3 separate regions of the Homo sapiens genome follow, and all the other regions are linked to region 3. Evidence: fine-mapped expression QTL. A gene starts in region 3. Each other region holds a variant in brackets. All regions are shown on one strand. Distances are between the middles of the regions.

Region 1 (11,070 bases), 26 kb before region 3:
TTAATAAAATAAACTTTGTCATGTGTCCCAATGATACTGCCAGGTTTATAGAAGTGAAGTCCATTGAAAATTAATTTAGACAATGCAGTTGCTACATATTATTAATTAGTAAGCCATTCATAATTTTATTTTATTTTTCAGCCTGATTCTTTTTCCAAAACTCCACTTAACCTGGGCTCAGGAGTACAGCATATGTTTTGCTCAGGTTTTTGTTTGGCCTGTTGTGTGCATGTGTGTGCTCTGGGGAGAGCTACTTCCCACCTCTGTGGTCCATGGAGGCCTCTTGCTCCTCCTTTCTCCTCCCATGTGGCAGCCTATCCCTCATCCTTTGGTGATTAGCTCAGGAAAGGCACGTCACCTAATTGAATCAAGGAGCGATAAGGCCTTTGCAAGGTTCTAGGAGGGAGAAATACACCCTTCCTGTAGATTTTGTTGATAAAGATGTGAATTTCGTGTTGCTCCAGCAATGTGGCTTCTAAAAGGAGAGTTCCCCTGAGAAAGAAGCTGTAACAAAGGGCTAGGAGAGCTAGAGGGGTGGATGATAACTTTGGAGCCTCTGAGTGTCAGACTGCACTGAAATGAGACCTGTCCTTTCTATGATACACATTTTTACATGTGCATAAGCAAGGAAATTTCCATCTTTTTAAAGCCATTTTCATTTGAGGTTTTGTTTTCATTGCAATCAAAAAAGTCCTAATGGAATACATGGTAGCTTAGTATGAAATGCTAACAAATTGGGCTAAAAAATGAACCTGATATTAAATCATGAATGAAACAGAATGTTTACTTCTTTTTCAGAGAACATTAAAAGCTTTGTGTGGCTATTGTCACATCCATTTAAATACTCTACCATATTCTGTTTTATGATAAATGCAAACCCAGAACGGTTATATGGAACTGAATTAAATCTCCTTTTCAACTATGATGTAATAATTATAAGATGCATCTATAACAGTTCTCTCCCCAACATTCAACAAACAAACACACATACATACCACAAGCACACAGAAGAAGTAACAAGTTGAGCTAAGGCACAAGTGATGCTCACCTTATGGTAGCGTGCCAACAGTTTTCCCTGAGAATCAAACACCACATCAGTGTTGTATTGGTAACGGCCATCAGGGGGACACTGAGAGTCACTGGCATTGCATGGCTTCTTGTCCCCAATATTAGCCACGACATAGATAGAGTTGTCCTTGGCCAGGCAGCTGAGTCTTTGTTGCACTGGTGTGTTGCCGAATCTAATTCAATAGACATTTCCTCAAACTTACTATATTTTAGTGATTTCTGAAATACCAAAGTGATACTTTATTTGCCCATTGCCCATAACACAACAGCTCTAGGTCAAGAATCAACAGAAAATATTTTAAAACTCTCATGTGATACAGTGTTTATCTTCCTGAAAGCTAACCTAATTTACTATGCCAAACTCCAGATTACAGTACAAGACTGAAGGAAAGAAAAGATGGAAGAGGAAGAGGAGGATGAAAAGAAGCAGCACATTCTCTTATGAAGTGCTCCCAGGAAGATATATGAAGCACTTGAAATTTAGCAGATTCTGCTAATGGAGAGGACCTTTTCTATAATCCAAGCCATAATTTGTACAAGGTTGCTGATACGAGATGTGGTTGGAAACAGAAATGCCAGGTGACAGTAAATAGTTTGTACCCTCCAGATTGTCTCTATAAAAAAACAAATATAGCTGTAAGTAGTGGAAATGTTAAAAATTAAAATAAAAAATAAAAAGCACTTCACTGTACTGACTCAGTTTCTTCATCTGTCAAATGTAAAACAATAGCTTCCTTTCTGCCTTAGTGGATCCACATGAGAAATCCTGAGATAAGTACAGACATGAAATTGTTTTACCAAGTCCATCCATATTAAAGATATTTATCCTTGGTATAAGAAGAGAATGTAGCATGGTGATAGCTGGCTTCAAATATTTGAAAGGCTTAATTTATAGGAGATGGGTC[A/T]TATGTGTGAACATAGCATAGAATGCAGGAAAAAGACGAAAGGAAGTTAAAGTGAGGCAGATTTCAGCAGAAAATAAGACAAAAAATGTTTAGCAACCAGCTCACTCTGTTAAATAAGTGGATTTGCTAGTCACTAAAAATTTTATTATAATATGGTTCATCTAGGCCCTTAGAGTCCATTCCGTTAGCACAGTTAAATGACATAGCTGTTTTAATTCCAGCCAATCTAATGATCAATCATGAGATCATAAGCCTTCCTTTTTTCACATATTTGTAATGCAAATAGTAATGCCAACTACATAAATTGAATGTAATAATGGGTATAGTATACCAGGTACAGTTCTTGGGACCAAGTAAGTGCTCAGTAAATGAAAATTGCTATTATGGATTGTGTGATTAGAGGCCATTCCATGTCTCTCTATGAACTCACAGCCCCTCTGCAATTGAGGTTAAACTAACCTTTGAATAAAAAGGACAGATTAATGGCCTACTGGTTTAGACCTTTTCTTTTTATTTTCTTCTAAAAAAAACAGAGAAGTACTATTAATATTCATATTCATTAAGACCTTTAATAACTTTATCATGTACTTTGTTTAATTTTTCTTTTCTTGACTAAATAATTTGAGTTATTTAATATTTCCTACTAGTTACTCGTGAAAAAAGCCCATGGAACTGTTTGACATGTCAGCATTCTAAATATTTAAATGCACAAGGATGACCGCATGCCTCTCTACTATTCTCTTCAGGGATAAATATCACCAGGGAGAAAACTGACTTTCTTTTCCAATATTATCATTATATTAAATACTGGATTTCTCCTTTCTGTAACACAAAACTGAAACGTTGTCATTTGAATAAGTAGGTGTAAGAGTTCATAATGTTGACATTTCATCAGTCACCTACTTTCCCAACTTAAAATAATTTATCGATAGCTAATTATCAAATTTATGGATATATTTTCCCTGGAAAAGTCAGTTTCATTAGCCCAGTCAAATACAGTACATTTTCGTGTAAGCCTCATCAACTGCAGCAAATAATGATTCCTTCCTGTTCTGGGAAACGCCTCATAAGCAAGTAGATGTTGAATCATAGTGACATGGTTTCTGTAAACACAGACCATGCAATGTTTAGAGAATATTTTTCCAAAGGGCAAAATCCCAGAGTGAGGTTTGACTCACATAGCTGAGCCTGAATGTTGTACCATTAAGCATGACTTTCCACTTAATTTCACATAGGTAAAATTATCAAAGAAGTTTCTCTTTTTGCACAATAGGTGTAGTTCTAAACAGGTGCATGTAAATTTAAAATTAGCAAGTTAAATGACTTCTTAACCCATCAATTTTGCCATTTAAAGAAATAATCTTAAACTATTTTTAAAAGTTAATACAACTAAAATAATCTATTTCACAGATATCATATTTATTATGCATATTTTCTTTAAGAAAGTTATGCCTAAATTACATCTACTAATAATTACTAAAGTCTCTCAAAGGACAAGAACACAAAGAAGTTCAGACTCAGTCCCTTCTGTTAACAAAAAAAAAAAAGGAATAGTGACAGCTAGCATTGGAGAGTGCATCACAATGTACAAATTCCATGTGTATTACTTCATTACTCTTGTCTGATCTGTAAGAGAATTAAGGGACTCTATTATCCCTGTTTTACAGATAATGAAACAGAAATGTTAAGCATTTAGGTTATACGCTTACATCACTCAGCTAGGTGGTCGTAAAATGTGGTCCCAGAAGTAGGGCTTCCTTTTTCAAGTCCTATACAATTTCCATTGGCCATATTGATTGCATTCTGAATGACAGTGATAGCAAAGCTCTTTGGAAACAGGCTCATTCATCTTTTTACTCTTCCTGTGAAGGAGGCAGGTGTCCATGGATGAACCAACTTACTTGTATTTGGGACACAGGTTCTAGATATTCCAACTTTTTCACTTTGTTCAAACCCAATTAAACACATTTACTATAAAAATTGTGTATATACCTACTATTTTTTTTTCGAGATGGAGTCTCACTCTGTTGCCCAGTCTGGAGTGCAGTGGCGTGATCTCGGCTCACTGCAACCTCTGCCTCCTGGGTTCAAGTAGTTCTCCTGCCTCAGTCTCCCGAGTAGCTGGGATTATAGGCATGCACAACCACACCCAGCTAATGTTTGTATTTTTTAGTAGAGATGGGGTTTCACCATGTTGGCCAGGCTGGTCTCGAACTCCTGACCTCAGGTGATTTGCCCACCTCCACCTCCTAAAGTTCTGGGATTACAGGCGTGAGCCACCACACCCGGCCTATACCTACTATTTTTTTAAGACAAGGTCTTACTGTCACCCAGGCTGGAGTGCAGTGGTGCAATCATAGCTCACTGCAGCCTCAAACTCCTGGGCCCCAGTGATCCTCCTGCTTCAGCCTCTCGAGTAGCTGGGATTATAGGTGTGAGCCACCACACCTGGCTAAATTTTTTATTTGCCGAAATAGGGTCTGGCTTTGCTGCGCAGGCTGGTCTCAAACTTCTGGCTTCAAGCAGTCCTCCTGCTTTGGCTTCCCACAGTGATGGGATTACAAGTGTGAGCCACCACGCCTGGTCACACCTACTATTGTTGAAAGACAATTGCAACAAATAACCAACTAGTCATCAGTATCTCAAGTCATTTACCAAACAGGAGATATGCCAGATGATATACACTATGAAACATAAGCAGTATCTGCAGATTCAACACTATTTCTTTTCTTCTTTTTTTTTTTTTTTTTTTTTTGAGACAGAGTCTCACTCTATCGTTCAAGCAATTCTCATGCCTTAGCCTCCCGAGTAGCTGGGATTACAGGCACACACCACCACACCCAGCTAATTTTTGTATTTTAGTAGAGATGGGGTTTTACCACGTTGGCCAGGCTGGTCTCAAACTCCTAATCTCAAGTAATCCACCTGCCTTGGCCTCCCAAAGTGCTGGGATTATAGGCATGACCCACAGCACCCAGCCTCAACACTATTTCTAACATACTACCAATGTCATTTTTTCACAGATTTATAAACAAAATTTCTAAAATTCATATGGAACCAAAAAAGAGCCTGAATCGCCAAACCAATCCTAAACAAAAAGAACAAAGCCTGAGGCATCACATTACCCAAGGCTACAGTAATCAAAACAACATGGTACTGTTAGAAAAACAGACACATAGACCAATAGAACAGAATAGAGAGCCTAGAAACAAAGCCGCACACCTACAGCCATCTGTAGCTCAAACAAAGTTCACAAAAATAAGTATGGGGAAAGGACTCCTTATTCAACAAAAGGTGCTGGAATATCTGGCTAGCCATATGCAGAAGATTGAAACTGGACCCCTATCTTTCACCATGTACAAAAATTAACTCAAGATGTATTAAAGATTTAAATGTATGACCTCAAACTATAAGAATCCTAGAAGAAAATCTAAGAAACACCATTCTGGACATGAACCTTGGAAAATAATTTATGACTAAGTCCTCAAAAGCAATTGCAACAAAAACAAAACTTGACATGTAGGACCTAATTTAACTAAAGAGCTCTGTACAGCAAAAGCAACTATCAACAGAGTAAATAGACAACCTACAGAATGGGAGAAAATATTTGCAAACTAGGCATCTAACAAAGGTCTACTATCCAGAATCCATAAGGAACTTAAATCAATAAGCAAAAACAAAACAAATAACCCCATTGAAAAGTGGGCAAAAGACATGAACAGACACTTCTCAAAAGAGGACATACAAGTGGCCAAAAAACACGTGAACAAACACTCAACATCACTTATCATCAGAGAAATGCCAAGCAAAACCACAATGAGATATCATCTCACACCAGTCAGAATGACTGTTAACAAAAAGTCAAATAATAAAAGATGCTATGGAGAAAGGGGAACACTTACACACTATTGGTGGAAATGTAAATTAGTTCAGCCATTGTGGAAAGCAGTTTGGAGATTTCTCAGAGAACTTAAAACACAGCAACCATTCGACTCACAATCCCATTACTAGGTATATACCCAAAGGAAAGGAAATCATTCTACCAAAAAGACTCGTGCACTTGTATGTTCATCGCAGCACTTTTCACAACAGCAAAGATATGGAATTAACCTAGGTGCCCACAAGAAGGAACAAAATCATGTCTTTTGCAGCACCAAAGGACATTATCCTCAGCAAGTTAACACAGGAACAGAAAACCAAATACTGCATGTTCTCACTTATAAGTGGGAGCTAAGCATTGGGAACTCATGGCCATAAAGATGACAGCAATAGACACTGGGAACTAATAGAGGGGAGAGAGAGAGAGGAAGGCAAGGGCTGAAAACCTTCCTGTTGTATACTATGCTGGGTGGTGCAATCATTGTACCCCAATCCTCAGCGTCATGCAATTTGCCCATGTAACAAACCTGCACATGTACTCCCTCAATCTAAGCTAAAAGTTGAAATTACAGGGAAAAAAAAGCATCTACATCCTATGCCACAGATTGACTATTTATCAACACAATTACCAGTCAAATTCAGTGAGTTTACTGTTGGTGTTTTACCAAATCACAACTTTTTGTTTAGAAATTAATGATATGATATTACCTCCAGGGGTCTCTACATGGAATCCAGTTCACTCCAGGGTCTGGTATATCCTCTAGATAGGGGTAAATGCTCTCCCTGGTGAAGATCCAACCATAGATTCCATCTTCTGGGGTCACAATGATATGTGCACCCTGCTCGAAACAAGTGGGGCAAAAAAGTTTGTCATGAATTCCAAATACTCTTTGACCAAACTGCAAGTCTCCTTTACAAGTATAAAAGGGTAATACCTGCTTCGCTGCCAGCTTAACTGCTTTCTCCAAAACATCTATGTTCTTGTTCATCAGGAGCAAAGCTTCTTCTTTTGAAACAGGTGTTTCTGTTCTGTTTGGTAATATCACCGCATGCTCATATACTGCAGCAATAAAAGTGTCCAGTGCACCAACACTCAGAGCAAGGAGGGCAAAAACTGCCACACATTTTGGAAAATGTGATATAATCATAACTAAAATTTAGTGATCTTTGAAAAACAAACTCAGATTCTTACGTTTTGTTTCACTGGAAAAACTTTACATTAAATCCCTCCTGGCAATCAGCTGTTTATATTTTCTTGCACATATATTACACAACACAGCATTGAGAAAGGATGTTGTGCAAGAAAACTGACAGCCAGGACGTAATTGGATTGATTCAAGTGTACAGTGCAGTTGTTGACATTGTTCAGAGTCAAGTCAACACTAAAAGATTGAGCCAACCAGATGAATTCACCCCAGTCCAAAACACACTGGCAGTTGAAGTCTTTTCTAATAAAAAAAAATTTTCCTGGTAAGCCAACATTTCTATTAATAGGGCCAATATTGGAAGGTAGTCATCATAGCAACAATTTGTTGAGCACTCTACTTACATATTTGTATGGCCATTTCTATTTGAAAAGCCCTTGTTCTCCATCCGTCTAAGTTCCAGCTCCCCCTAGAGTCCTCCCAAATCCACTCCAGTCCTAAGTGATATTTCTGAACTCCTATAGCATTTTTTTCTGTGCTGCTGAATGTCTCTCACTCCTTGCTGTTGTCTTGACCTTTAATTTAAATATTATACCAATACTTAATATTATATATGTATGTTTTGTCTTCTTAAAGAGATTAAAAAGAAACTTGCTGTTTTCTTTCAGAACATCCATGTCCAATAAACATCTAGACAGAGATGATGTATCCTGGGATGTGGCCCCTGGAGGGTAAGGGAAGTGTCCTGCTCACTGTTGAACCTCATCACCCCAGCACATGTGTGACAGATGGTGAAAGCTCAATATATGAATGAATGTTGAATGACGGAATCTACTACCTGATGGGCCAGTCTATTCCACCTTTGAACATTGCCAATTTTAAGAACATTCTTGTTATTGAGATGCAATTTACTTTACCTGTCTTCTACAGTTTAAACCCGCTTCCATATGAAGACTAATCAATAATTCAAAAAGTGTTAAGTTCTCCTTTAATTCTTTTATTTTTTAAACATATCATCCTTATAAGTCCCTTAAGGGCAGGGTCACATTATAATTCTCTGCTGCTTCTATAGAATTTTATACTGTGCTAAGCTCTGTAAATGTTTTTTGATTAGTTAAATTCACTTCCCTCGCCCAATTTTGGATTGAATCTCCTTGTTTGAATATCAGTTAATTTAAAATGTAGAATTTTTTTTAAGGTTTAAATCTCTGATTCTAGAACAATTAACACTGCTTCTCCCTCTTGAGATTCTTTCTAAGATCTAAGGAAAATTGTAAGTTATGGAGATTTGTGTCTATTTTGGGTTTGGTTTGTTTCTATAATTCAAAGTCCCTTGGTTTCAATAAACTTTTCCATTATCCAAATATTTCTGCTCCCAGATACCCCACAGTGTTTCCATATGTCCTTATGCCCTGATACCATTTCAGGAAATAAGGACATATGAACATAAATTCAGCCCTAAATTCTGAGTTTATGTCTGACATAAATTGTTTTCATCAGACATCAGACATAAGTTCTTTTCCAAAAAAATTTCTGAGGAGAAGAGGGAAACTATGTAAAACAGATGGATTGATCTGGGATGAGAAGAAAATAATTTTCATATTTCAAGTTGAAATTCTAACTCTTTTCTTGGTTCACCTGACTTTCTGAATAGAATCAAAAGGAAACATATGGGAATTCCCCTTCATTCTCCCAGCCCCTAGTTCCAGGAAATGTACCAGCTTTTTTTGTGTGTTGAAATCAATAGAAACTTGAGTTAAATATTTGATTACCCAATGTTGTTAGTAATGTCTTTGCTTCCTAGGTGTATAAGGCGTGCAGCTATGAGTTATTTGAAACACTGTATTGGTACATAATCCTTATGACAGTCTGGCATTATTGTAGGATTAAGAAGTTTAGAGTCAGAAGTTTTGTATTACAATAAATATAATTCTTCTTTTAAATATGTAAGGGACACATCTTAAAGGAGAGGTGCTGTAATAAAATATCTAAGAGTTTACTGGCTTTCCCCAAATCTTTATTTCTAAACTCATTGTAAAACCTCCTCTCCATTCTCCTTATCAAGTTCCTGACCCCATAAATAAGAATTCTTTCAGGCTCTCCATCAGCCTCTCTGATCCCACTCCTCCCACCCTAACCCTCAATACTGTAATCCATTAGAGTTCCCTTGACCATTGCTGTCATTAATTAAGATACTTCCCATGCATATATTGAATCAAAGCAGACAGTAAGAGCCTTCTTTCTCTTGGTTCCATTTTATATTTTGTGTTCTTAGCTAAAAGTACTCTTCTTATTGTAACATGATCACTGTTGCTCTGATCCTGGAATGATTCTGACCAAATCCTGCCTTTCGAGCTCAAATCCATTGCCTCTCCAGTCTTGTTGCTATTCCCTTCTCTAAACTCTTAATGCACTTATGGCCAGTAGCCACATTGTTGTTCACTGTCTTTCAGTCCCTTACTCTACCCTCTCCCCTGGCCCCAGGTTTTTTTCTACTTCATACCTTCAACTATCTTCTACAAAAGGATAATGACTGTGTCTCTATCTTTAGCTCAAACTTCCGTTCTGAACTTCAGGCCTATTTATCCAACTCAAAAGAACTCCTTTCCACAAGCTCCCACCAAGTATCAACCCACCTGCCAGCCATTTGTACCTGTAAATTCTGCCTCCCCCCATCCTTACTGTAAATGACTCCTCTTGACCCTACTTAAGTCTAGCCCCTATCTTTGAGCACTGGATCCCAAGGACATTGCTCTAGAAGTTCTTCTCTCTTACTTTGTTTATTTTTTTGTTTGTTTGTTTTTGAGACAGGGTCTCACTCTGCCACCCAGGCTGGAGTGTAGTGGTATAATCTTGGCTCACTGCAACCTCCACTTCCCAGGTTCAAAAGATCCTCCTGCCTCAGCCTCCCAAGTATCTGGGATTACAGGCATCTGCCCCCCACACCTGGCTAATTTTTGTATTTTTAGCAGAGATGGAGTTTTATCATGTTGGCCAGGGTGGTCTCAAACTCCTGGCCTCAAGTGATCTGCTCACCTCGGCCTCTCAAAGTGCTGGGATTATAGGCGTGAACCACCAATGCTCGGCCTTTTTTTTTTTTTTTTTGAGATGGAATCTTGCTCCATCACCCAGGCTGGAGTGCAGTGGCCCAATCTTGGCTCACTGCAACCTCCGTCTCCCAGGTTCAAGCAATTCTCCTCCCTCAGCCTCCCGAGTAGCTGGGCTTTCAGGCGCACATCACCATGCCTGGCTGATTTTTGTATTTTCAGTAGAAACAGGGTTTCACCATGTTAGCCAGTCTAGTGTAGAACTCCTGACCTCAAGTGATCCACCCACCTCGGCCTCCCAAAGTGCTGGGATTATAGGCATGAGCCACCGTGCCCAGCCCCATTACTGTTTATCATCAATTTTTCTTTCTCTATTGGATACAATAAAGAAAACACAAATATCCTATTATATATTCTACAACTATCCTGTAACATTTTCTATCTTAAAAAAAAAAGCCTTTTGATCTGACATCCCCTTCCAATTCCTGCTCCATTTCTCAGCTTTATTTTATAACAAAATTCCTTTCCACGATGGTATGTACTCCTTGCCTCAATTCCTGTCCTCCCAATGGACAGGATTTTACCCCCATGACTTCACTGCCTTGTCCAGTTCCCATTAATCTCCCTATTACTAAGTCTGATGGTCAATTCTCAATGTCATCTTACTCAATGTCTTGGTAGTACTTGACAAAGCTGCCATTATCCCATTCTTAATGTACTTTCTTCTTCACACCCTTTTAGTTTTCCTCTTTCTTTCTTCTTAGTTTTTGTATTTGTTTACTTTGTTTTGTTTCTTTGGACTTTTTCTTCTGGTTTCTACTCATCATCCCTGACTTGGCAACACTGGTGCACCCTGGAGCCCAACCTTTGGAAGTCTTCTGTTCCTATCTACACTCACTTCCTAGGTGATTACATCCATTTCATCTCTTTAAATACCATCTATATATTTAATATTAGTGACTCACAGATTTATATATCTACCTCAAACCTCTCTTGAGAACTCTAGACTCTTATATCTGGCAACAG
Region 2 (11,070 bases), 39 kb before region 3:
TGGCATTGGGCAATATCGCTGCATGCTCATAAACAGCTGCAGTGAAAGTGTCCTGGCAGCTGGCTCTTGAGACATAGAAAAGCAAAATTGCCACGTAAGCTGGCAACTGAGTAGTCATGCTGAAGTCCAATGAGTGCTGAAAAACAGAGCATGTCCTGGTATTTATAGAAAGAAGACACGTGGTGTCCAGAACTTAGTACCTTAAACTACGGAAGTTAATTAAGAAAACGCTATGATTTCATAGCATTGTTACATAACAAAAGACCCTACCTTATTGCAGTAATTTGTGAAGATTAACTCAAGAACTCTATGTACATTAGTTCGCTAGGGCTGCCTAACAAAATACAATAAACTGGGTGGTGTAAAAAATAAAAAATTTATTGCTTTGCAGTTCTGGAGGGTGGGAGTCCCAGATGAAGGTGTCAGCAGAGTTGGTTCCTCCTGAGGGCGGTGAAGGAAAGATGTGTTCCAGGCCTCTCTCCTTGACCCATAGATGGCTGCCTTCTCCCTGTGTCTCTTCATATGCTATTCTCCCCATGTGTGTGCCTGTATCCAAGTTTTCCCTTTTTGTGAGGACACCACTCTAATCTTTAACACAGGGAAAGGGAAAATCCCAGCTCTAGCTTTTTTTGTCATCGTTGTTGTTTGTTTATTGTTGTTGTTGTTTGAGATGGAGTTTCACTCTTGTCACCCAGGCTAGAGTGCAGTGGCGAAATCTCGGCTCACTGCAACCTCCGCCTCTCGGGTTCATGTGATTCTCCTGCCTCAGCCTCCCAAGTAGCTGGGATTACAGGCGCCCGCCACCACGCCAGGCTAATTTTTTGTATTTTTAGTAGAGATAGGGTTTCGCCGTGTTGGGCAGGCTGGTCTCAAATTGCTGACCTCAGGTGATCCACCTGCTTTGTTTTTATGCCAAATAAGGGCAGAAGAAAAAAGCCAACTGAAGGTCATAAACCCAGGGGTACAGGCTCACTGAAAGACTGAGACTCAATCATAGGACCAATTCGATTTAGTGCCCACTGTACTCCAGTATAACTTCATCTTAACTAATTAGATCTGAAATGACCCCTTTTCCAAAAAAGTTACATTCTAAGATACTGACAGTTAGGACTTCAACATATAAATTTTTGGAATTCATATATTTTGGAATGTCAACACAAGACATTCAAATAATTTTAAAACTTTATTATTATTTTCATGTGAATATTTCAGCTCTACACTTTGATTTACTTTATTTTCCTCAAAATGGGGAAGCCAGGACAAAGAGGAATACAAAAGAGTTACTCATTTTCTATTGCTATATAACAAATTATCCCCAAATTCAGCAGCTTCAAAAAGCAAAAATACATCATCTCCCACTTTCTCTGGGTCAGGAATCCAGGGGCAGTTTAGCTGGTGCCTCTGGCCCAAGGTCTCTTTCACAAGGCTGCAGTCAAGCAGCTGCCAGGGCTAGCTATATCAAGGCTTGACTCCAGGAGGATTCACTTCCGAGCTCCAAGCTCCCTCATGTGGCTGACGGCAGGGATCAAGACCTCATTGGTTGTTGCCCAGAGACATGAGTTCCTAGTGATGCAAACCTCACCATAGGGCAGCCCGCATTATGGTATCTGGATTCCCTTAGAGCCAGACAGCAAGTGAACCCACTGGAGATGGAAGCCACGGATGCTTCGTAATGTAATTGGGGAAGCAACACCTCATCGCTTTTGTTGTATTCTATCCAATAAAGCATTAGGAACCATCTTTGAAGCTGCTTATCACAGAGGCAACAGAGGTGTATAAAGAATCAGAGCAAAAAAAAGAAAAAATGAGCTGGGGAGCGAGATCCAGAGAGAGGAGAGGGAAATTATATAAAATAGAAAAACTGTTCATAGATTTTGATATTGAGTAAGCTGGCAAATTTTGTTTCAGTTGTGCATTAAGTATAATATTTACAGAATTAGTGTTTATGTTTTTCCATTTTATTTTTAGATCTATTTGTCTTTGAATGGTATTTTTATAGTTCAATCTGCAAACAGGCATATCTAATTTTTTACTTTAGTAACTATAATGCATTTATTCTGCAATTGCCAAGGTAACCCAGGGGTTGTGGTTGGCTGGTTCTCCTGAGTTTCCGGTAAACACCAGCTTCTCTAACTGCTTGCTGACCTCTTAGGGCCTTTCCATGCCCAGGTGGGTGGGAATACCACATATTTCACAAAAAGATGTCATTATTATGTAACAATTTGTAAAAGGAAGCACTGAAATAAAAGTTAAAACTGAGATGAGTTGGCAAGAGGTTAAAAAATTACTTCTTGACCTTCTTAGATTAAAAATATTAAACCTCCCGTGGAGTTTCTAGTCCAACTCATAAAGAGCTTGGCAGTCATTTTTCCCATGCTCACACCAAGAAAAAAGCTAAACAAATGAAAATCGACAACTTTTCTAGGATGCATCAGAGAATTGAGATCACAGGATAAACTGCGGTCCTCAGAACTGCAGAGATAGGCAGATACAGAGGTTAAGAGTGTACTGCGAGCAGAGTCCTCTGCGGCTGGCGCCAGTACCGTGGGTTCACTTGAACTGTAATTGACGAATTGGTGGAGGCTCAGGGTGGACAACCTTGAGAGTTCTGGTCTGTTCTTCTTAACAAAAGCCTGCCCTCAAAGTAAAGTATTTTACCAGAGCCTAACCTACCTAGGGGAAGGAAAAATGCCAACCCCAGCCACTCTAATCTTTAACTTGGGGAAAGGGAAAATCTCATCTCTAGCTTGTTTTTATGCCAACTAATGGCAGAAGAAAAAAGCCAAGTGAAGTTCATAAACCCAGGGGTACAGGCTCACTAAAAGACTGAGACTAAATCATAGGACCAATAACCTTGTCCCTCCTCCAGCATGTCACTGCCACATGAATCTACCCTTTCTGGCCTACTTAGCATGTACTAGCTGAGAGCAAATCTTCAGATGAAATAATGCAGTTCGGCCAGGCGCGGTGGCTCATGCCTATAATCCCAGCACTTTGTGAGGCCGAGACGGGAGGATCACCAAAGGTCAGGAGTTTGAGATGAGCCTGACCAACATGGAGAAACCCTGTCTCTACTAAAAATACAAAAATTAGCTGGGCATGGAAGGGAGCAGTGTGGGGGGCGGGGGCGCCTATAATCCAGATACTCGGGAGGCTGAAGCAGGAAAATTGCTTGAACCCGGGAGGCGGAGGTTGCCTCGAGCCGAGATTGCGCCATTGCACTCCAGCTTGGTGATAGAGTGAGACTCCGTCTCAAAAAAAAGAAAGAAAGAAAGAAAGAAATAGAAATAGAAACAGTGCAGTTCTTGCAGTAGAGTATCATCAGCAGGACATGGAACTGGGAGGCACCAGCAGCCTCTACTACAACTCCTAGGCTGGTTCTCTGGATCCTTAACCCTACTGCTACAGCCAGCCAAGGTCCCCAAATGCAGCCCTTCTGCTCACACAAAGTAGAAACTGGGAGAATTGTCTCCAAGGAAATGACTTTGAGTGTAGACAAAAGCCCTAATTGATACCTCCAGACTCCTCCAACCAAACTTGCATAGATGGAGCAGATTGCCTTTTGCAAGGAAAACATGACATCGCACTGTCCAGAATAGGGCAAGACCCACAGTATTCTGGATTTTGCTAGCACAGCAGTGATCACCCCACCCCAGGCAGCAGGTCCCCAGAGGAACTCAGAAGCAAGTCCTGCCCAGCTTACGCAGAGAGAACCAGAAACAAGGGAAAAGGAGGGAAGAGCAAGGACTGAGTGGAGTGGGCACTGCCTCTTGCACTTCACCTGGTGAACTCTGAAAAGCCATGTGCACAGCATGTAAAAGTGTGTCCATATACTTGTGTCTGATAAAAGATTGATTGGCAGTCGGCCTCTGCATTGCTACTCAAAATATACGCCCATATTTTAATATTTAGTGGCTACAACACAATGTCAATTCTTTTGTTGACATTAATCTGGTTTTAGGAGAAACAATCCATTTTTCCTCTGGTCTCATAGCACAACAACTAACACAAAAGACTGGTTACTCCCAAGTAGGTGGAGATTTCTCCCCACTAGAAAGCAAGCAATTGACTCTGCATCAGACATCAGCTGGCTATCTTCCAGTTCAATCCAAATACTATTTATCCAAAGATAGCATCAGATCCCACATGTTAAGGGCTCAGTCCCACAAAACCGCCCCCTCCTTCCCACCAGTAACAAGTCTGGGCTTCCAGATCTTCCGACCAAATGGCTCTGGGTTGGGGTTTCCATGACCCCTTTTTTTTTTAGTTCAATTAGTTTGCTAGAGTGGCTCACAGAACTCAGGGAAACACTTACCTTTAGTGGCTTATTGTAAAGGATATTACAAAGGATACAAATGAAGAGGTGCATAGAGCAAGGTATGGGGGAAGGACTGGAGAGCCTTCCACGCACCCCTAGGTGTGCCACCCTCCAGGAACCCTCCACGTGTTCAGCTGTAAGGAAACTCTCCGAACCCTGTCCTTTTGGGTTTTTATGGAAGCTTCATTACATAGTCACGATTGACAACCATGTAGAAATGCGATTGGACAAAAAGGTTATGATCCCATACTAACAGTTTGAGTGGGGAAACCCAGTAAAGCTTGTCTGTTCAGGTTTGTCTTGACATCTCTTTATAGCATTTCTTCCTCTAGGGTATGGGGTGGGACCCTCTCTGAAATGAGGGTCTTTTGAGCCACAATCAGATTATAGTCCTGCCTTAGGTAGGTAAAGGGAGGACAGGGTAAGGTCAGAGAGGGAGATTCTGTTTCATGAGGCCTGCTCCTGAGGCCTAAAACCCCCTAATGTTAAAACAAACAAACAAACAAAAAAAAAACCCTAACAAAGGATATGGGAGTTATAAGCCAGGAACTGTAATATCACAAGTTGCTAATGTTACAATAATACATATCTCTGCATAGGACTTAATAAAACTATTTTTGCATTGTTAATGTAGCCTGTAAACATGATGATGTGGCTTGAACTTGCTCTCATGAAAGAAAAAATTTTTTTGTTTACCAGTGAGTTATACTCTGCTGTATCAGAAATATTAATTAAAGCCATAAGAGTGGCTTCACTATCCATAGAAAGATTTTAGATAAGGAAGATACAGCTGTGAGAGCTGAGTCTAGCAGAGTGCATCATTTATATCAATGACAAACAAAATAAATGTGGTTGGAGGAGGGAGAAGAGACAAAAAGGTCAACGAAAATAAAAAGCGAAAGGCATTAAAGTGTGGGGGGTAAAATTACTCCAAGAAGTACAGGCTTAGTAAGAGCTGAGAACTGACCATGAGATTTGACTTTTTTTTTTTTAGACAAGGTCTCACTCTATTGCCCAGGCTGGAGGGCAGTGGTACAATCTTGGCTCACTGCAGCCTCTATCTCCTGGGCTCAAGTAATCCTCCAACTCCTGAGCTCAAGTGATCCTCCCACCCCAGCCTCTCCAGTAGCTGGGATCACACTAGCATACTCGGCTAATTTGCTGTTGTTGTTATTGTTTGTAGAGACAGGGTTTTGCCATATTGTCCAGGCTGGTCTCAAACTCCTTGGCTCAAGCCATCTGCCTGCTTTGTCCTTCCAAAGTGCTGAGATTACAGGTGTGAGTTATGGTAGCCTGCCCCGAGATTTGATTTTAAAGTTCCTTTTAATAAAGAGGGGGGCAGGAGTCAGCTTACATAAAAATGCCATGAGGTGAGAGGTGCCAAGGAAGCTGGGGCAACCAGAGTACATAATGCAGCCTACAGACAACTGGCTTAGGAAAGAGAAGAAAGAATTCTAGAAGGAACAAATGTAAGGCGATAAAGAGGGAAGATGCCCACCTACTGCACACAGAGGAATCGGGGGCACAAACCTAAGATCCGAGAGTGATAGTCCCTGAAGAGAGAATCCAGGAAAAATGGGAGGGGGAAACCGAGTGCATTTTCTGCCACCCAGAATATCTCTGACTTACTGGTACTGGACTGAATTATAGCAGGTGGAAATAAACACCTAGGAAAAGTTCAGAAATGCGTTTGTCAAACATTCTGTGGACAAAGAGGTGTCTCCTACATAACCCAGAGAACCCAGCTGCTCTTCAGCATATCTCTTTCCAGAGTTAATCAGTGACCAACCAGAAAAATGACTAAGAGAGCCAAGACAGTGGGCCAGAGGTATCTGGGGAAAAGGTGACATGGTGGTCCTGTCTAGGAAGCTCCCAGCCTGGCACAGCCTGCAATAAACCCCTGACCACTGAGAAGGGCTCAACCAAGATTGGGTAGATTTCAGAACAGAATAATTTCAGAAGGAAATGAGATGTGATCTGAACGACATAATTTATTTTATTTATTTATTTATTTATTTATTTATTTATTTATTTTTTGAGACGGAGTTTTGCTTTTCTTGCCCCAGGCTGGAGTGCAATGATGCGGTCTCAGCTCACTGCAACCTCCGCCTCCTGGATTCAAGTGATTCTCCTGTCTCAGCCTCCCGAGTAGCTGGGATTACAGGCACGCACCACCACCCCCAACTAATTTTTGTATTTTTAGTAGAGATGGGGTTTCACAGTGTTGGCCAGGCTGGTCTCAAACTCCTGACCTCAGGTGATCTGTCCACCTCAGCTTCCCAAAGTGCTGGAATTACAGGTGTGAGCCACCGCACCCAGCTGACCTAATTTATTTTTCAAAAAATTTCTGTTTTGGCTGGCCCTGTGGCTCACACCTGTAATCTCAGCACTTTGGGAGGCCAAGGATAGCAAATCACTTGAGGTCAGGAGTTCAAGACCAGCCTGGCCTGGCCAACATGATGAAACCCCATCTCTACCAAAAATATAAAAAATTAGCCAGATGTGGTGGCGTGTGCCTGAAGTCCCAGCTACTTGGGAGGATGAGGCAGGAGAATCACTTGAACCAGGGATGAAGGGGACCAGCCCCTCCATGCCTATGGGTATTTCTCGTCAGATGGGATAAGAGACTGAGAAAAGAAATAAGACACAGAGACAAAGTATAGAGAAAGAATAGTGGGCCCAGGGGACCGGCGCTCAGCATACAGAGGACCCGCATGGGTACCGGTCTCTGAGTTCCCTCAGTATTTATTGATTACTATTTTCATTATCTCAGCAAGGGGAATGCGGCAGGAGAACAGGGTGATAGTGGGGAGAAGGTCAGCAAGAAAACATGTGAGCAAAGGAATCCGTGTCACAAATAAGTTCAAGGGAAGGTACTATGCCTGGATGTGCATGTAGGCCAGAGTGTAATAAAGAGTAACAGAGCAGCATTGTTGCCAACATGTCTCGCCTCCAGCCACAGGGCGGTTTTCTCCTATCTCAGAATAGAACAAATGTACAATCGGGTTTTATACCGAGACATTCCATTCCCAGGGGCATGCAGGAGACAGAGGCCTTCCTCTTATCTCAACTGCAAGAGGTCTTCCTCTTTTACTAATCTTCCTCAGCACAGACCCTTCACGGGTGTCGGGCTGGGGGACGGTCAGGTCTTTCCCATCCCAAGAGGCCATATCTCAAGCTCTCTCAGTGGGGAGAAACCTTGGACAATACCCGGCTTTCCTGGGCAGAGGTCCCTGCAGCTTTTCGCAGTGCATTGTGCCCCTGGTTAATCGAGAATGGAGAATGGCGGTGACTTTTACCTAGCGTACTGCCTGTAAACATATTGTTAACAAGGCACACCCCGGATAGCCCTAGATCCTTTAAACCTTGATTCCATACAACACATGTTTCTGTGAGAACAAGGTTGGGGCTAAAGTTACAGATTAACAGCATCTCAAGGCAAAACAATTGTTCAGGATACAGTTC[A/C]AAATGGAGTTTCTTATGTCTTCCTTTTCTACACAGACACAGTAACAGTCTGATCTCTCTTTCTTTTCCCTACACAGGGAGGCGGAGGCTGCAGTGAGCCGAGGTTGTGCCACTGCATGCACTCCAGCCTGGGGGACAGAGTGAGACTCGGTCTCAAAAAAATTAAAAAAAAAAAAATCCATTTCAAGTATCCAATTTCCATATAAATAGAACTTAGGAGTCAAATTAGTCATGACTAAAGGGACAATACTAGCTAAAAAGTTGTTCATAGTTACTTTAAAAGATGTCCTTATTCTTTAATTTCCTGTATCTTAATTGGCTGGAATCAAATACCCTCTGCATATTCAAAGTTCATCCTATGTATTTACAAATGAAGTGCATTAGTCAGGGTTCTCCAGAGAAAGAGAACCAACAGGAGAGAGAGAGAGAAAGAGATTTATGATAAGGTATTGGCTCAGACAGTTATGAAGGCTGAGAAATCCCACAGTCTGGTCTGCCATTTGCAAGCTGGAGATGCAGGAAAGCCAGGGGTGTCATTCGAAGGCCTGAGAGCTGAAGAGTTGATGGTGTCAATTCCAGTCCAGGCCTGAAGGCCTGAGAACCAGGAGCACATGAAGGCAGGAGAAGATCTCTATCCAGCTCAAGTAGTCTGGCAGAAAATGAATTCAAACCTCCTCCTTCTTGTTTTTCTCTGCAGGCCCTCAAGGGACTGGACGATGACCATCCACACTGGGGAGGACCGTCTGCTTTACTCAGTCCACCAATTCAAATGCTGTTCTCTTCCTTGAAACACCCTCACAGACACACCCAGAAACAATGGTTAACCAGCTATCTGGGCATCTCATGACCCAGTCAAATCAACACATAAAATTAACCATCATATGATGGAAACAACACTTGCATACATTAGTGCAGTTACTGCAAAAGGATTTTTCTAGGACCTCCTCCTATTTAAATATACGCTCCACTATACATATACATACTTACATATACTTAAACTCACATACATGGAGGATGAATGCGGCTCCCATAAATGAACCTGTGCTATACCAAACATGTAAAATGTGAAATTTGCACACACACTTGTTGCTTTTCAAATCTGCTTCAGTTTATTATATTTGTTTCTGTAAGTTTATAACATCTTTTCTAAACAGACACTAACGGATCTCTTTTTTTTCTTCCTTTCTTAGCCAGGCTAATCCTAAAAGGGCTCTGCTAAAGGAGATCACTGGAATTTCCCAGATCCCTGCCCTAAGCGTGGAGGGTCCTTCTCAAACACTCTTCCATACAGGGCCATAACTAAGACAGGCAAAGGGGCTCCACTTCGGCTCCTCAAGCGTCCATCTCTTGAAATCTGGTCAAAGAAAGCAAAGGGTTAACTTCAGTGCAGAGTTTAGGTTACAACCTAGAGCCCTTCTCAGGCAAGATCACTCCCTCCTAAAGCAGTGTAGAATGGTAAAAATCACACAGGATTTGGTGTTGGAAGACCCAGGTTCATGTTTCAAGTCTGAAAGTAGAGGGACTTTGTGCGAAAGTGCAGCCAACAAATTTGTTGCACAGGTGGTCAAATAATATGTATAAAAATATGTTCTTCAAACTCATGAAACACTATACAAAATATTAGTTATTACTATAATTATAACAACTTCTCAAAATAGTATACCCAGAAAATAAGTTGTAGATGCATTATTTAATGTATTTAATTTGCACCTTCTACACCATGCAAATGACAACATTATTGCCATTATCAGCAGTCAACATTTTTATTTTAGCTTCTCTGTGAATTTCCTGTTGCCTTGAATATCAACATCACATTTATGTTAAAAAAATGAACCCCAAATTCTCCATCACAGCCTAATGGCAATCTAAAACCACAATTTATATTCCATATCATAGTTTCCACATATTTAAGGTGTTTCTTGTAGAATGTGAACCACGATATTGCTATACTCTCATTATTTCAAAGATTTTCATTATGCTGCTCTACCCATCTACTCTGCTCAAAGGAATTTATCATCCTGCACACCTCCTACCTCATAATGTCTTTCAGGGGCAAGCTGACTCCCACTTAGAATGATCTGTGGGAAAACATAACGCGTTCCAAATGTGCCACTGAGGGAGAAGTCTTCAAACTTGGTAAAAGCTGACCCCACAGGTTCTCCACACGTTTCCAGGTCAGTGGTTTGACACTTCAGTAATGCACATATCTATGGAAGAAAAGAAAAGAGAAGGAGTCAGAAAACTTGCAAATATTTTCTCAGCTAAATAATGCAATTTCAAACTATAAATGCATATTTAAATTGCCTCATAAGAAGTATTTTTCAAACTGCAGGTAACAACTTATTAATGAATCCTAAAGTCAATATAGTGGGTCAGGATTAACACTTTTTATACTGAAGTCAAATAGAATAGACTAGGATTTTAAAAATCAGAGTGCATTGCACATAATAATAGCTATTTCTAATTCTATTTTAAATTATTTCATAAACTATTTCAATTAAATATCTTTTTTTTTATTCAGTCACACATCCACTTGGCTACACTGGGTTATGAGGTAAAATATCCTTCTTTCTCTGGATTTAGTTGAAGACAATTTGAAAAACACTGCTCTAAAGTAACCTGACGGGAAAAGAGAATACACAGAAATTGCAGCTTTTGAAACCTGAACCTGGCCTGCTGAGAACTAATCAATTTGCTTTATGTTTTTGCCTTTCAACTAAAAGAACTAATTCTGTTCTTGCTAAGACTGAACAAATAATGTGTTCTGGGGACAAAATTCAGAGATAAATATAACATTACTAATTATAAAATTAGCTAAATCCAGCCCAATTTTCAAAGAAAGGCAATGATGACCTAGAAGAAAAACTGATAATAAGGCCACTTTAACATATTAAAGCATTTCTACCTGTAAGTAATATTGGCCTTCTACTGTGTGCAGTCCATCAAAAGCACCTAGGGCATAGATCTCGTCTGTTCGCTTCTCAGACATCTTGTAAGTTAAGTGACAACACAGATCTTTCTGGCAAGCTGTGTAATTTCCTGTATTTCTCTTAAGCTTGGTGAAGGTAAACTCATCAAAATAAATCATCCCCAGAAAATCTGACTGTTCAGAGGAAAATGGCTTGACACTGCTGGCATACGCATGCCAGTCAACAGCTGCAGGGTAGGTGGGCTCACGGCGGGGCCGAGACTTCAGTTCTGATAGCAACAGCTGACCACTCTCTGTTTCCATGTCATAGTGGTACACCTTGACTGCTTCTGGGGCGTAGATTCCACTCCCTACAAGC
Region 3 (11,070 bases):
ATATTAATAGATGCATAATAAATACCTGTAAGTCAGGTGAGAGATGTCATCTCTCTCTTTAGTGTCCCATCCAAAGTAATCTCAGTGACTCTTGCCCACCTTTCAAAATTACCATAGAAATGTATTTAATTTCCCGATTCCTTCTAGGTAAACTAAAAAAAAACTTAGTCTAATATAATAAATGGAATCAACAGTTAATAAAATGGTCTGCAGTGTAGAAAAAATATCTAAAAAATAGAAAAGAAATTGGGCTTTACTACTATTTTAAGAATTGACAGGCCAGGCAAGGTGGCTCATGCCTGTAATCCAAGCACTTTGGGAGGCCAAGGCAGGCAGATAACTTGAGGCCAGGAGCTCAAGACCAGCCTGGCCAACATGGAGAAACCCCATCTCTACTAAAAAATCCAAAAATTAGCCGGGTGTGGTGGTATGCACCTGTAATCCCAGCTACTCAGGAGGCTGAGGCAGGAGAATGGGTTGAACCTGGGAGTCAGAGGTTGCAGTGAGCTGAGATCGTGCCATTGCACTCCAGCCGGGATGACAGAGCCAGACTCTGCCTAAAAAAAAAAAAAAAAAAAAAAAAAAAGGAATTGATCGACAAAGGTATTCTCATTAGGTTCACATATGTCAGAGGTCATGGGTTACAAACGGTCCCTGAGGTACCCTCAGGGAAGAGTGAGAGCCTTTCAACTTAGACAGGGTGACTGCAGGTTCCTTGCTAGTTTGTCCACATTCAGTGCACTGTGCCATCCTGCATATTTACAGAATGGCAGAATAGCTTCAAATGATTACTGCAAATAAACTGCATTGAAAGATAATACAAATAATGCAAACAATCTCCCAAGCAAGAAAATGGAAGCACTGACCTTTCTATTTTTACTATGAGACACATTTTAAGAAGAAAGTGAAATGCAGTGATATATATGAAAAGAAGCTGTCAAAATCCACAAAATTATGAAGAAAGCATTTTGAAATTGTTGCACTTTATAAATACACACACAAAAATACATATATTGAGGACTTATGTTAACGATTTTTTCCAATAGGGGTCCATGATCGAAATCATTTGAAAACCATTGGTTTAACATCCCTCCTCTTAATTAATATTTATATTTTAACTGAGACTGCCAGGAGATAATTTCTCCACTCCAAAGATTCTGAGGCTACAGTTTAAGATGCTTACAAAATATCTGGGTGTGGAGAAGGGACATTCATACTGCCTGTACATCACACATATCCATTTAAAAGGCCAGGCTTCTTTCTCTACCTAGTTTAGTATAAAATTATGACTTAAAGGTTATTTGATTCCTTTTTTCAATTCAGAATTTAAAGTAAACATTTTATGGTTTGATCTTAAATCTATAAGATGGTAATTAAATTAGCTGGTGTAGAAAATAAGGTATTTTGTGGTTTGATAGCAAATTAACTTATGCAAAGCTGATTCATACAATTTTGAAACATCTTTCTACCATTTCAATATTAAATAGTATTTAGATTATGGCTGTGCTCAGTGGCTCATGCCTCTAATCTCAGCATTTTGGGAGGCCAAGGTGGGAGGACTGCTTGAGGTGAAGAGTTCAAAGACAGCCTGGGCAATGTAGTGAGACTCTGTTTCCAAAAAAATATTTAAAAATTAGCATGGTGGCACATGCCTACAGTCTCAGCTACTTGGGAGGCTGAGGCAGGAGGATCACTAGAGCCCAGGAGTTTGAGGTTAACAGTGAGCCATGATGGCTCCACTGCACTCCAGCCTGGGCAACAGTGAGACCCTGTCTCTAAAAAAATATAAAATTATTGAAACAGTGCCCAGATTATAGTCACCTTAGTATCTTTTTTTATGTTAAAATTATTTGTTTTATATGTGCAAAAAGTTTATCTCAATCCTGGACCATCATGCTACTTTTTTTTTTTTTTAACAGTTCTCTGCCTACATGTTTTTCTGAGTAGTTTTTTACAACGTGTCATTTTCTTTTTTCTTTTTCTTTTTTTTCTTTTTTTTTTTTTGAGAGTCTCCCTCTGTCACCCAGGCTGGAGTGCAGTGACACAATCTCGGCTCACTGCAGCCTCCACCTCCTGGGTTCAAGCAAGTCTCCTGCTTCAGCTCCCACATAGCTGGGACTACAGGCATGTGCCATCACGCCCCGCTAATTTTTGTATTTTTTAGTAGAGACGGGGTTTCACAATGTTGGCCAGACTGGTCTCAAATTCCTGGCCTCAAGTGATCCACCTGCCTCAGCCTCCCAAAGTGCTGGGCTTACAGGCATAAGCCTCCACGCCCAGCCAAAAGTGTCATTTTCTTTATTGCCCACTTTCAAAAAACAAAAAACAAAACAAAACAAAAAAACCCTCTAGTAATATTGTATCATATAGGGAATGAAATTCAAACTCCTAAACCCAGCATTGACCACTCACAACACGCTCCATTTTACACGTCCGTCACTCTCTCTTACCTTATGGTAACGTGCCACGAGTTTTCCTTCTGTATTATACACCACATTGGTATTGTATTGAAAGTAGCCATTAGGAGGACATGTGGAGTCACGGGAATTACATGGCTTTTTGTCCCCCAAATTTGCCAAGACATAGATAGAGTTGTCCTTGGCCAGGCAGCTGAGTCTTGCTTGTACTGGTGTGTGACCAAATCTAAACCAAATTATAATTAAGAAATTTCAATTTTAAAAAAATATTTTAGTCACTTTATATGGAAACGATAGCAACTGTAACCACTTAAGTGGAACTTAAGTTAATACAAAAACTATGCCTAAAAATATCATACTTTAAAAGCCACAGATGATTATACACTTGATGAATGCTTCCCACACGGTATCTATTGCTCCAGAAATTCATTATTCGGTCTCCTGCCTCATCAAGGGTCTCCTCTCTACTGAAACATCCCATCAGCAATGAAATATCCTCTAGTACCTCCCATCTTTAAAAAATAAAATTAAAACCTCTTTTGACCTTTCCAAACATGCCCTTCCAAATATTGCTTTAATCCTCATCTCTCTCTTAAAGCAAAACTCCTCAAAAGATCAGTCCCTCTTGCTGTTGCCAGTTCCTCCTCTCCCATTCCCTTTCAGAGCACTCCAACTTGTATCTCTATCACCCAAACTCTTACTAATGCCAGCAGTGACCCCCACATTTTACCTGATCTCATCTTAACTTTTCAACAGCAGTTGGCACAGTTAATTACACCTCCTTCTGGAAACACCTCACTTCTCTATTGGACCCACCCTCTCATTTTCCTATTTATTGGTTGCTCTTCTTCGACTCTTCTGCTGATTCCTCGTTTTCTTCCGAGTCTAAACACTAGAATTTCCTAGTGCTCAAGCCTTATACCTAAACTCTTCTCTAACTCACTCCACAGGTGAACTCATCATGGTGTTTAACACCATCTATATGCTGACATTTGATTTTCTATCTCCAGATATAATTTTGTCTTTTCATGCCAGACTTGTCCATGCAACTGCCACGTTGACACCTCCAGGATGACAGTAGGACCCAGATTTTTAATATATATTAGAAGGTTTCTAGATAACCTTTTCCCAGGAAAATTAGATTTGTGAGCCTAGGAAAATGCAGTTTCAAAGCATAAGGTCTTATGATTCACTTGAAAATACATGGTGAAGTCTTTCTGCCTAAGAAGCAACTCTGGAATGGAGAGACTCTATAACATTGAAAGGGTGTCCCTTCAGCAGAGGCTTTGGAATGTATTCCTAACACAATCCACTGTCTACTTCAGAAATTAAGTTACTACTTGTATCTATGAGATCTCTTCCCTTAGTTTTTCTTGCAGGAATACCCTATTTACACATTTTCTCAAAATTTAATAAAGATTTTCAATCACAAAAGATTGTTAAATAGTATCTAAGTACAATTTTTTAAAATCTGACAAATGTTGAGATAAATATAACCATAACATATACCACATATATGGTAATTCAAGAGCAATCATTTTGCTTTGGTGAACGTGCGCATTTTAGAGAGTTACTTTTGCACAAAAGACTAAGATAGTTAAAATACCTGTGGGGGTCTTGACACGGAATCCAGTTCACCTGAGGGTCTGGGATATCCTCCAGATAAGGGAAAACAGTTTCCCTGGTAAATTTCCATCCATAAAGTGCATCTTCTGGAGTCACAATGATTCGAGCACCCTGTTCAAAACAAGCAAAATAAAAATGATTTTTCCATGTACAACACAGACAATTCAGCTCTCTCGTCTTCCACCAGCTCCCATGCCCCTCGTGTACATTATGATTAACAGAAATAAGAGAATACCTGCTCAGCTGCCTGCTTGATCGCTGTCTCCAGAATGTCTATATTCTCGTTCATGAGATTCAAGGCATCCTCCTGAGAAACTGGTGTTTCTGTTTTATTTGGCAAAATGACAGCATGTTCATACACTGCAGCTATAAAACTGTCCTGAGTACCAACCTGCAGGGTTATTAGGGCAAAAACTGCCACAGAGATTGGAAAAGAGGAAGTGACCATGGCCAAGGTTTAGTGATTTCTGAAAGCAAAAATAACATTCATGTAGTATTTACAGAGGGGAGAATGTTTGCATAACATGTGGCTGCCAGTTACTGGCCTTTTACTTTATCATCATTTTTCTTCTTCTTCTTCTTCTTCTTCTTCTTCTTCTTCTTCTTTTTTTTTTTTTTTTTTTTTTTTGAGGCGGAGTTTGCTCTGTCACCCAGGCTGGAATGCAGTGGCGCAAGCTCAGCTCACTACAACTTCCACCTCCCAGGTTCAAGCGATTGTCCTTCTTCAGTCTCTGAAACAGCTAGGACTACAGGTGCGCGCCACCACGTCCAGCTAATTTTTGTATTTTTAGTAGAGATGGGGTTTCACAATATTGGCCAGGCTGGTCTCAAACTCCTGATCTTGTGATCCATCCACCTCAGCCTCTCAAAGTGCTGGGATTACAGGCGTGAGCCACTGCACTTGGCCTACTTTATAATCTTAAGAACGCAATATATCTGACCACTTTTAAAGAAAGAAAAGTTGCAGTCCATTTAAGACAATCAGAAAGTATTACAGGGATTGAACAGCATGTACTATTAGTACTAAGATTTAATATTGAATTTCCAAAAGACACCCGAATTCAAATATAGAACAATTCCAGCTTTTGTTAATAGAAACTCATAACTAACTCTCGTGTAAAAAAATCACATCCCAACAAATATCTCATTTATTAAATTTAAAAATTGACAACAATTTTTTTGGTTCTGTTGAGTCACTTACATTGTGTTTATTTTTAGACGGGGGGGAAAATATTAAATACTTACTACTAAGAAAATGTAACACAGGACAATATTGATAACAAAATTTACCCAAATCTACACTCTGACTTACTTATTGCTATTAAGGACTGAAAACATGTGCTCCAGAAAAGCAGGATTTTGTGTCTGGTTTGTTCACTGCTGTATAGTTAGTGCCTACAGCAACAATACCCCGAGGCACCTAGGCCAGAGGAGGAATCTCAGCTCAGGGGCCCCAGGCCTCAGGATACTCCGCTTCTTTCCTTCTTTCTCTCTTTCACCCTTCCCTCCCCATCCTCCCCCTACTTCTCCTTCTCCTCCTACTCCTTCTCCTCCTTCTTTTTCCTCCCTCCCCACCCCCTGCTTTGGAGGAAGATGCCAGGGAAGGGGAAGAGTCCAGGATTGGTGATAAAGATCATCTGTGTTGTAATAAGGAGAAGATGTAACTTACATTTTTGTTAGCAGCAAATAACAACAATGAGTTTAAAAACAATGCTAACAGGCCAGGTGCAGTGGCTCATGCCTGTAATCCTAGCACTTTGGGAGGCCGAGGCAGGCAGATCACCTGAGGTCAGGAGTTCAAGACCAGCCTGGCCAACATAGTGGAACCCCCCATCTCTACCAAAAACACAAAAAGTAGCTGGTCGTGGTGGTGGGCGCCTGTAATCCCAGCTACTCGGGAGGCTGAGGCAGGAGAATCGCTGGAACCCAGGAGGCAGAGGCTGCAGTGAGCTGAGATCACACCATTGCGCTCCAGGCTGGGCGACAGAGCGAAACTCCGTCTCAAAAAAAAAAAAAAAAAAAAAAACAATAATAACAACAAATACAGGATGTGATCTCAGATGCCTTCTTAGGACATTCATATTCTCCCTTCCCCAGGCCCAATCCTGCCAAATAAAGGATTTGTTTTATTTTTATCCAGCCCTTTGGTAAAAGTCACGGAAATGCTTTTAGACAGCATAGAAGAGTAGGTACGATTAAACAAAGTTTATTCTGTGCTTTCCTTCTTACTGAGATAAATGTTTTGTTAAGAATGGGGCCTAGGGGCTATAAATAAGATCTGCTCATATTTTCTGCTTTGAATAGAAGTTTCTATTAAAGGAATAACTTTTCTTATCTCTATAGAGCAGAAAACTAAAAATAATTCAGGAAAAATGGTCAAGCCCTTTTGTGGAAAATGTAAAGGGATAGATATTTTTATGAATTTTTAGCAGATTGTATAATAGACTGTTAGTATATAACCATACTATCTAGTGTATAATTAGTAAATTAGCATAGGTGATTGGTATATAATAGATTATGAGTGCTGTTAGAGTTTAGAAATCATGTAACCCAAATGCCCACTTATTACAGGATAGGAATCTGAGGCATAGAGAGCTAGAGCGACAGAGCAGGATGTTCGCTTCTCATTCCTGATTCCAGAGTCTTTCCTTTATACCTAAAACAGCACATGTGTCTGTGCTCTCTTTTAATGTCTGCAACTGAGTGTCTGAACACTCGTGTCTTTTGGGGTTTTTTTGTTTTTTGTTTTTTTGTTTTGAGACAGAGTCTTGCTCTATTGCTCAGGCTGGAGTGCAGTGGTATGATCATGGCTCACTTCAGCCTCCACCTCCCAGGCTCAAGTGATCCTTCCACCTCAGCCTCGCTAGTAGCTGGAACACCAGGTACGCACCAACATGTCAGGCTAATTTTTGTTATTTTTTGTAGAGAGGAAGTTTCACCATGTTGCCCAGGCTTGTTTCAAACTCCCGAGCTCAAGCAATCCACCCACCTTGGCTTCTGAAAGTGCTGAGATTATAGGTGTCAGTCACTGCAGCCAGTCATTCATGTCTTTTAAAGAACCCAATTCAAAATGATCACCTTAAGAAGACCATAGGCAAATTTGCTAAGTGCTAATGAAATTTCTGATGCAGTTGATGCCTAATAAAAACAATTAAGCTCTTCCATCTCCATAAGTACAATTTGGGCCATGACCTACCTTCATTGATCTAGTATCACCAATTAGTAATACTTAATTAACTCTTTTGCTTTTAAGTAGTCAGGTAAGCTGATGAGGAGGAGTTAACAGTTTTATAATTTTGGCAGTAGAAGTGGGGACAATCATATCTGTTATTGTGTTCCCAAATCTGGATGTTTTTCTCTGTCCTTGGCTGTAAAAGATAGAAATGATGTTGATCAGAGTTTTGGATTTTTTGTTTGGCTAACAGGGAAAGGGAAAATCACTTCTGATATAAAATCAAGATGACTAAATTCCCTCCTTTGTTTTTTTATTTGAAGCATCTAAAAATTGTCTCATTGAAACTGAGAATTTGAGTAACAAAGGTAATTGCAAAAAAGAATTAGAAGTTAGTAAATGAAGGAGCAATTTAAATATAGGAAAATCCCTGAGATGTGAAGAAAATATTTGCTGTAGAGGTCATTGATATTGTTTTAAATCTTCAGAAGTAAAAAACCAAATTCAGGACATACAGTTTCAATAGTTGACTTTTCATAAAGATGATTGATCAGGTAAAGATTAAAATTTTTAGTTTAACTGAATTATAAAATAAAGTAAGGTTATTTTGCCACAGGGAACATTGATTAATTGTAATTCGTTGCTAAAAGAGCCTACTTCCTAATTTGCCATTTTGGGATTAATGAACTTAGCTAAAGGGGTAAAAAGTTAAAATCAATTAAAAATTATTTGGTCAAAGAGTCACCATAAAAAAAAAAAAAACAGTATTGGGGTGGGCGCAGTGACTCATGGTTGTAATCCCTGCACTTTGGGAGGCCGAGGCGGGCGAATTATTTGAGGTCAGGAGTTCGAGCCCAGCCTGGCCGACATAGTGAAAGCCAGTCTCTACTAAAAATACAAAAACTAGCTGGGCATGGTGGCAGACGCCTGTAATCCCAGCTACTCAGGAGGCTGAGGCGGGAGAATTGCTTGAACCCAGGAGGAGGAGGTTGCAGTGAGCCGAGATAGCACCATTGCACTCCAGCCTGCGTGACAGAGTGAGACTCTGTCTCAAAAATAAAAAACAAGCAAATAAACGAAAAACAGTAATAGCTCAAATATTTGTTTCTAATTGTGAATCTGATCATCTGTTAGAATAATGTTCAATTGGACTAGGTTTTAGGTCTTTAATTTTAAAAACCTCATTTTTTTCCCACTTTCTCAAGAGTAAGCATAGGGGTGTAGTTTCTGCTTTGCACCACTTCTTTGGACCTCTATTTCTCATCTAAAAGTTTAGGTAATCATACCTGCTCTATCTCCTAAAGATATGTGAAAGTCCTCTGTAAGACTACAACGCAGATGACAATAATTAACAAAAGTGAGTGACTATTTAGTAATATAATATCCTGACTGCTTAATATTATTTCATTGTTAGGCCCACAGAACTACTGTTGTTCAATTCAAATTCTAGTCTATTTGGATGACCGTGCTGAAGAACTGCTGGAATGAAATGGGGTTGACAGGGTACCTGGGCATCAACTCCTGATTCGTGCTAAACCCAGCGTGGTAGAAAAACTGCAGTGGGGTAGCAAAGGTGAAACAAGAAAACCAAGGAACTCAACCCCAGGAAGGAGAGGAGCTGCTCCAGGCTCTGACACTGGCTACTGGACTTCCTGTTCTGTCCCTTCTCCTGAATGCAAAATGACAAGTGAACTGAGAAACAAAGAATGGGAAATATCATGTATTATTATCAATGACATTCTCACAGGCAGCAAGGGTGACACGTCAAAATAAGAATAAGAAGCAACAATAGGCAGAAAAGCCAGGCTCCAGTGTTAAAACTGTTCCTCTTAATACTGTATACCAAAAAAGTACAATACTGTATCCAAAAAAAGTACTTAATGGCAAAGAAAAACGTTTCTGTCTCTACACCATTGGAGTATTACATATGGCTTTAGTGAGACTGAGTCAGGCCCTGTAAAAGGCAAGGTTGCCTTGAAAAGAACCAGCTTGAACTTTAACCATCTTTTGGGGCCAGGTCTCATTCAGATGAGGTAATCTTCCAGCTTTAGAGTTGGATGGGTGTTCAATGCTTCAGATAGCTAATGAACACAGCTGAAACCAGAGCAAATCTGAGAAGGTAATGATATATCACAGCCTTGGATTCTCTGAAAGCACTGCTAGATGGAAATGCTTGTGCAACATGAAATTGCCAATCATCACTGTTTTTGACCTAGCAAAAGTAATTTCACATGGTTCAACCAACATGTCTGTTTTCCTGTCTCAGAAACTTAGGGTTGAAGTTGCAGAAGTCCCTTTGAGTTAGTAGCATCCTCCCCTACTTTCCGACAGCTCCTGCTTCCTTAAAATAAAATATTAACAATATTAATCTCATAGGTCCACCCACTATGCCAGTCTATTAACCCTGCCAAAAGTTTCTTGCATTCACCAGCCGGTCCTTTTAAAAAATTAAAAATTCTCTTGACTGAATTAAAAGCTTTTGGTAAAGTCGGGATGACTGTCACCACAGAAATAAATCCACAGGAACTGGATCCAAGTCACTCGTTGATTTATGTAGGCAGTTGGAGAGACATGCGTTTGAAAGGGTATGGTAAGAAAATATCATGGAAATCGCAGACTTAAAAAAAAAAAAGATAGATTAAAAATAGAAAAGTTTATGTCTTATTGATCAATATGAGAATGTCACAGCAATCCACCAATAATGCCACTTGTTTATTTTCAGTGAGCAAGGAAGCAAAGAAAAAATAATGTTTGCAGCCCAAGGTAACTACTTACAGCTTTAGTCAAGGGGGAGCCTTCCACTCCTCTGGATCTCAGCTGCTTTCCTTTCCAAGGCCTGTGCTCCTCCAGTCACCCCTGGTGACTTCCTGTTTTGATTTCACTTTCTGGGTGGGCCGTACCCTTTGAGATGACAGACAGGAGTCCCAGCAGCTGCTGGTTCAAGGATGCTGCATCTTCAGTCAGACACCAGGAGAAAGAGTGTCTATTTTATTCTAGCCTGGCAATTCTGATTCCTGAGCTTTTCTTTCAAGGAGTTGTATGGGCCAGATGACACAGGCGAGGAGCATTGACACAATTTCTACTGAACCAAGCTCAGCAGAGGAACCACAGCAATAGAATCAGGAGATTCTCTAGCCTACAAAGCCTAAGTCGACTCTCATATTCATGTCATAGTCTTTCTCTTTAGCACATTATTCTTTTACTGTAAGACAGATCCCACTCCAGACTGTCCTTCAAATTAGAGAGAACTAAATTGTGTATGGTCCTGCATCTAGTTATGGAGAGCTTTTTTCTCACTGTAAGTTATAAGGGTCATGGTGGTATCTAATAATAATTAACATGGACATGGACTCTGGGGCCAGAATGCCTGGGATTGAGCCACTTCCTAGCTATGTGACTATGAGCAAGTTTTGTGCCCTCTCTGTGCCTCAGTTTCCTCTATCTGCACAATGGTGATACGTGCTGAATAATTTTTGCTATTATTACTATTGCTTCATTCCTACAAGATGGAGGCCCTATTACAAGAGCCATGCCCAAGGCAGCTTTTACCCAGGGTTTGGTGACATAACCACCTGTCCTTGGTTACTGTCTTGTTAAAAGAATGTCAATGTGTCTACTTCTTTATGTTTGCATTGTTCTGTCTGTCTCCACAAAGTCTTTCAAGTTTCCTTTCTTCCAGGTCAACCTGATCTGAATGGTTTCTCCTAAAATTATGAACTTAAATTCTGTTTCTACTTGCTAATCTTGATGGCATTCCCTCCATTTGTACCACAGATTCTCTTTCTGATAAAAAGCTTTCACTCCACCTATTTCATGCACCATTCTATTTTTTAAAAAACATGCTAAACAACCTGC

What was found. PIP is the estimated chance that this variant, and not a neighbour inherited with it, causes the effect.
Region 1: its variant is fine-mapped to the expression of VNN2 in blood mononuclear cells (TOPMed, PIP above 0.99).
Region 2: its variant is fine-mapped to the expression of VNN2 in blood mononuclear cells (TOPMed, PIP 0.98).

Annotation. Positions count from the first base shown.
Region 1 is chr6:132,727,693-132,738,762 of GRCh38, forward strand. It overlaps the pseudogene VNN3P. Among named protein-coding and RNA genes, the nearest start is that of VNN1, 19 kb to the left of the region's middle. The variant A/T (reference allele first, on the strand shown) is at 1,974.
Region 2 is chr6:132,713,918-132,724,987 of GRCh38, forward strand. It overlaps VNN1 (vanin 1), which reads right to left and starts at 138. Exons shown (of 7, transcript NM_004666.3): 1 at 1-138. The coding sequence starts at 118. It also overlaps the pseudogene VNN3P. The variant A/C (reference allele first, on the strand shown) is at 7,784.
Region 3 is chr6:132,753,393-132,764,462 of GRCh38, forward strand. It overlaps VNN2 (vanin 2), which reads right to left and starts at 4,512. Exons shown (of 7, transcript NM_004665.6): 1 at 4,279-4,512; 2 at 4,024-4,154; 3 at 2,451-2,643. The coding sequence starts at 4,491. RefSeq lists enhancers at 6,859-7,048, 9,978-10,077.